Linked DNA regions of Homo sapiens: region 2 is linked to region 1. The links come from fine-mapping of genetic effects on gene expression. A gene starts in region 1. The other region holds a variant in brackets. All regions are shown on one strand. Distances are between the middles of the regions. Region 1 holds the start of ACOXL-AS1 (ACOXL antisense RNA 1). Region 2 has its middle 54 kb from the start of BCL2L11.

The links. PIP is the estimated chance that this variant, and not a neighbour inherited with it, causes the effect.
Region 2: its variant is the best candidate, but not a certain one, in a credible set for the expression of ACOXL-AS1 in gastroesophageal junction (GTEx, PIP 0.66).

The regions. Positions count from the first base shown.
Region 1 is chr2:111,114,317-111,117,233 of GRCh38, reverse strand. It overlaps ACOXL-AS1 (ACOXL antisense RNA 1), which reads left to right and starts at 1,646. Exons shown (of 4, transcript NR_122074.1): 1 at 1,646-1,714. The region is part of intron 17 of ACOXL (acyl-CoA oxidase like); the gene reads right to left.
Region 2 is chr2:111,173,946-111,176,862 of GRCh38, reverse strand. No RefSeq gene overlaps it. Among named protein-coding and RNA genes, the nearest start is that of BCL2L11, 54 kb to the right of the region's middle. The variant C/A (reference allele first, on the strand shown) is at 1,439.

The sequences.
Region 1 (2,917 bases):
TCCCCTCCTCTCCACCTCTGGAGTGCCTGGGGTGCCACCCTCTGGCGCGCAGAGGGAACTGAACAGGAAGAGCCTCCGAACAGGTGAACCACTAGAGACCTGCTCCAGTCTCCCCAGACTAGCGCCTTCGGTCCTGACCTGGCTGGCAGTAGGCCATGATTCTTGAAATTCAGTACAGTGAGACGGCGGACCAATGCTAGGCATCTTCCGCCTGGCCGCTGCGGAAAATCCATCTGCTGTTAACGCCAATGCCAAGGAACGCCGCGGATGCCCTTGGTTCTGGCAGCCACTGGAAGGCAGGGATAAGACATTCCCGGCGGATAGGAGAGGGAGATGCAAGTCAGTGTTTTGGAAGCTGCACTGGTGTATTTTTATTTCATTTTCCATGGCTTAGGTGCCAATGTATTTTTTTTTTTATTTTCAGGAAAAAAAGCTACCAAACTAATAAGATTGTTTTTCTAAAACTACACAAGGGCAGAGGGACGGCTTTCTTTTCTTCTGATCTACACATTGTACTCCATTTTTCAAGTTTTCGGCCAGTGGTAAATTTGTTTCACTCCCCAAATCACAGTAAATCCCCAGGTTTTCATGGTTTATTTTTACAGGTTTAACAACATCACTTACACCAGCCCCACCTTTGCCCTCACATGGTGGTCATGTCTGAGCCGCACTGATGTTGTTAAGATCACAGTTTCCCTTGCAGCAGTCCAAAACGCCATTTCAGGTTTTCAGAGCATTTCAGGTTTTCAGTGAGGTCCCAAGGAGGAAGGTGGAGGAAATAGGGGATGGGGAATATAGAGGGTAGGGATATGGTGGGGGAAGAGCATGAATTGTAATAGTCCAACAATACATCTTCCCTGAAAATGTGCTCTATTACACCAGTAATTTCTAATGAAAAACTTCATTCTTCACACACTGTGGTTAAGCATCATCAAATCAGTACTGAAAAGACCTTTGATCGTATTTGCAAGATGCACTAAAATGAACTTTCACTGACCAAGATTTCAAAGTTTGTAATTAATACTCTTGAAAAATCCCTGACTAATCTGTCAACTCTCAACGTCTTTAACCACACAGTTCAAAACCATGAGGTGGCGTACACAGCCCCTAAACTTTCCACATATTGTCATATGATTATTCAAGATAATTTTCCCTTTGGGTTTGCATTATGAAACTCAACCAACTTTGGTAATATATTCACCGGTGGGGGAAATACAATGATTTGAATGAGTGTAAAATAGAGTATGGGTTTTATCTATCTGGTGCCAAAAACAGAACGTAGGGCCAGAGGTAGGAATTAAATGAGGCAGATTTCAATATAAAGAAAATTTTAAAAAAATAAACTTGAAAAGGAACCCAATGGCTGGTGAAAAGGAGGGTTTCTTCACTCATAAGTGTTCAGGGAGTGTGCCCTCCAATGGCACCCTAGAGAAGAAAAATGAACTGGCTGTGAAGAGGAGTTGACTGCCAAGATTCTTTCTAAATCTAAAGTTCTGGAGCAGTTTAAAATACTCCTTCTAGCCTTCTCCATTTTTCCTAGACTGCAACAGAAACCTCAGAATGATTATTGTCTCAATGGACGGATCCGGCATCATTCCTGTTAGTTATTGTTTGACTCTTAGTTATTGTTTGACTCTGATTCCAGGTACCCACCCACCTCTGTTCCTGGCTGTCAAGATGATAATAATAATTACCATCCTTTCACTCACAAATGGTATGCTGGATTCCTACCCAGTGTTAGGTACAATTCTGGACTTTAGAGGTTTAATGGTACACACTACAGGAACAGGTCTCACATCGTGAAGCTGTTGAGGCGTTTTAAAAATTTTTAAAAATATATGATCTCTTTAATACAAAATAAACTTGAGAAGATAATATAGCATTGATTATTACACAGTTACAGTATTTTTATTACCAGGGGGTATTTTTATATGGGGCTAAGCAGTGTATTATTAAAGTTTAGTTTTGTTACCAAACATGCTTCCATACTATAAGCATAAAAATTGCACATAGTGTAGGGGTCCTCTGCCCTGCCAGTTTATGACCCATTTATGCTGGACAAAGTACTTCAAGCTTACCCATATCTTTACAAAGAAAATTCACCAGCTTTTGAAAAAGACAAATGAATAGGTATACTTTAAAAATAAAAAAGTATGAACAAGTTATAGGTTCTTGCAAAAACATTTTTTAAGGTCAAACCTAAACATGGGCACTATTGCTCTACAAGCAATAAGAATGTACAGTCCACTGGAAATAGCCAGTGAGTGGAATTTGAGAATATCTGCTTTAAAGAAAGCAGAAGCACTCAGCCCTCAAGGGATGACACTGTGTTTGACTATATTAATATGTATATTTGGGAGTGAGGGAAAAATTGTAACATCAGTTTGGCTTCCCACCTCCATCTAGTTGCAGTACTCAATTTATTTTTCTGCTCTTTTTGACTCTCCCTACAGTTTCCTTATTTCAGTTGGGAGAGTAGGATGGCCAAGGATGGGCAGTGACTAAGCTTTGCAGTCCTCTGAACAAACCATATTTTCCCAGCATGGCATGGTGTTAGTCCTATAATAGATGTTCAGGGTGGGAAGTGCCCAGTACACTTGGAGGGACACCCCAGCTATTCCTAGGACTCCATGCAGAAGGTTTTCCTGCCTCTTCCCATATGTCTCACCCCTGTTCTCAGCATAAGATGACCACATGCTGTTTTTTGTGAAAAATCCCTTACCCAAACTTGAAATGTCCCTTCATTAGCCCCTTTCGTCTGGCTACCTTGGTAGAGTCTTTTTCTCCATCCCTTTAATCTGGGCTGAGTTATGACTTGCTTTGCCAGTAGAATATGGGGAACATGTCACTGTGTGATTTCCAGAGTTTAGGCCTTAAGAAGCTTTGAATCCCCCATTATCACTCTCCTATAACCGTG
Region 2 (2,917 bases), 60 kb before region 1:
TTTTCAGGGGACGATGATGACACTTTTCCCATGATTATGAGATTCCCCTCACACTCTACACTCTCCTGAGCTATGGAAGGCCAGGCTCAAGCACAGCATGATCCACCCACGTTCACTGCCTGTGCCACACACAGATTCGGTTCTACCTCTAGCCCTTCTGGGGTCCACACTATGGCTCCGCCTCCCGTCTCTGAGCTCGCTGAGTTCTTTGGGTTTGTCAGTTGAAGGCTCTGACTCACCTGATGATGACTGGGCTCTCCCCAGGCTCACAACCCGGGGCCACCTCACCTCCACCCTGCCGTGGCCTTGGCCTTGGCCTTGGGCCCTACAGCACACTCTGTCCTCCACTCACCTTGAATTTGGCTGGAGGCATGGATGCCTGTGCCAGGGCAAACTGGCAAAGGGAAACAGAAAAGAGAATTGATCATTTTGCAACTACAACAGAAATTTAAACAGACAGAAAGCACCTTGCTGATTGCTGTCCTTCAGAGCATTGTCCCTGGGGAGCATTGCTGGACCCGATGCTGCTGTGGCTGCCCCACCACTGCTGGAGTCATCCCTGGCAGTTTTGAGCAAGCTGTCATTCAGCAGCTCCCAAGCCCAGCTGCACACTGGAGTCATTTAGGGACCCTTTAAAAATATGACACTGCACCCCCACCACAGACTCAGAGAGGTGGGCCTCTGGTATGGGTATTTTGTAAAAGCCCCTGGGGGAGTCTAACATCCTCTAGGCTTGAGGACCTCCCTCCTGTGCCCTGTCTGGCCTGTGTTCATAGATGCTCCATAGGCGCCACTGGGCCATCATCCACCTCTCATGAACAGATGCTCAAGGCCCTGTTTCCCCGGCTTATGAGAGTGCTTCATTAAAGCAAATGTCTAAATATTCATGCTCCAGGCTTTCTCTAAGCAGCCAGTGGGTACAGTCCACCTTCCTGGAGTTTCTTTCCAGAAACTCAACTTAAAAAAAAGCCCTTTAAAATGAATTGACAGCCCTTTGTTTCTAGATAACCCCTGAGTTGAGTTCGTGGTCCAGCAAAACAGAACTCTCCATTCACTCTTCCTCCACCCCAGCCCCTCCCCAACCGATCTCACTTCCCACTCCTGCTTCTATTCTCAGGAAGCGCCATCCCCGCTAATTGCTCTGACCCAAATCATCCTTTAGAATCCTTGATTCCTTCTGTTCCCTCACCTTCCACATCAGGAAGTCCTCCCTCCTCTTCCTCCAAAGCCTGTCTGCCCTCTGTCCACATCCCAGGTCTCCCGGGGTGGACTCCTGACTTCTACTCCTGACCAAAATCCAGGCACAGCCACAATCCAGGCACAGCCACAATCCAGGCACAGCTCTTAATTTTTTAACTTTTTATTTGAAATAATTTCAGACACACAAAAAGTTTGCAAAATAGTAGAGACACTTTTCTTATAGCCTTTACCCAGAGTA[C/A]CCAGATGTTACCATTTTGCCACATTTTGCTTTATCCTTCTCCCTTCCAACTGCCACCATTCCATCCTGCCCCACATGCATGTAAGCACATCACATTTTTCTCCTGAACATTGAGAGTAAATTACCTGTTGCCCCTTGCCCCTAAATACTTCAGTGTGTATCTCCTAAAAATGAGGACATCCTCTTACCTAACCAGAGTTCAGCGATCAAAATCAGGAAATTAACATGGATGCAATATTAACATCTACATATTTTCTTCAGATTTGACCACCTGCCCCAATCATGTCTTTTATAGCAATGGAAAATTCCAGATAGTATATTGCATTCAGTCACCATGTCCCCTTGGTCTCCTGTAATCTGGAGTTTCTATCAGATTATGTTACTCCTGTGACAAGAGCCCTCCACTGTCCTGGGAATGTAGGGCCAGCCCTGTCTCGGGCATGCCCCCTCACCCTGCAGCCTGGCCTAATTCTCAAGCCCATCTCCCCCATCCATGGCTCCCTCCCTCGCATGTCCCCGATGCAGCCCCTTCCTCCCCATTTGCTGTGCTGGGCTTCACATCTCTAGTGGCTCTGTCTGGACCGCTCTTCTCTGGTTGCTCCTGATCACCCTGAGGTCTCAGAGGAGAGGCCTTCCTTTCTCTGGTCCCACCACCGCACCTGGTCCACTACACTCTGCCTTGTTTATTTCCTGCACCTTTCACTGTCTTGGTCACTGGTTCCCCTACGTGTTATCTTATGCCTCCCACCTCCACTGAACATCAGCTCCATGAGCGCAGGGGGTTGTCCTTGCTAATTCCCAAGCATGTAGAATGAATTGTGCCTGATACATAATAGAGGCTCAACGAACCTTTGCTGAGCGAGTAAATACATGAATGAATGCAAGTCTTTTAGACTATTTGGGTTAGAGACAATAGAATCCTTTCACCAACACTTAAATGAGAAAGAGATTCTATAGGCACTGATTGAAGACAAAATGCAATTTTTTTTCCCCTCAGAAAGCCTTTCAAAGTGTCATCCAATGCCTGAGGAAGCTTTGACTCACCACTTTCCCCTTTCAAGGGTCCAGAATTCAAAGTAATAGAATTGATTTACTTTTTAAGAAAATATACCAGATCTTCTACAGTCAAGGATTTTTGTAGCAGGCGTCTTGGCAGAAATAAGTGACACATATTGGCCTGAAGGTCATGGTCGAGTAACACTGGGAAGAGTTTCTGACTGAGTTAGAGACTCATCGGAACCTACTCCATGAGCGGAGATAGCCCCCTTTCCTGTTAGAAGGGCCTTGAGGGACCTCTGAGCACCCTTGGGGGACCTACCCAGGATGAGGTTAGAGGCCTGGATCCCCAGTCTGTCCCCGAAGGGGTTCCAGGCTCAGGCCCCCAGAGCAAGGGTGAGCCAGGAGGTCAGGGGCGAGCCTGGGCAGGCAGCACCGAGGTGCTCTCACTTAAAATTGGGAAGGTTCTGCATCTTCACTGGG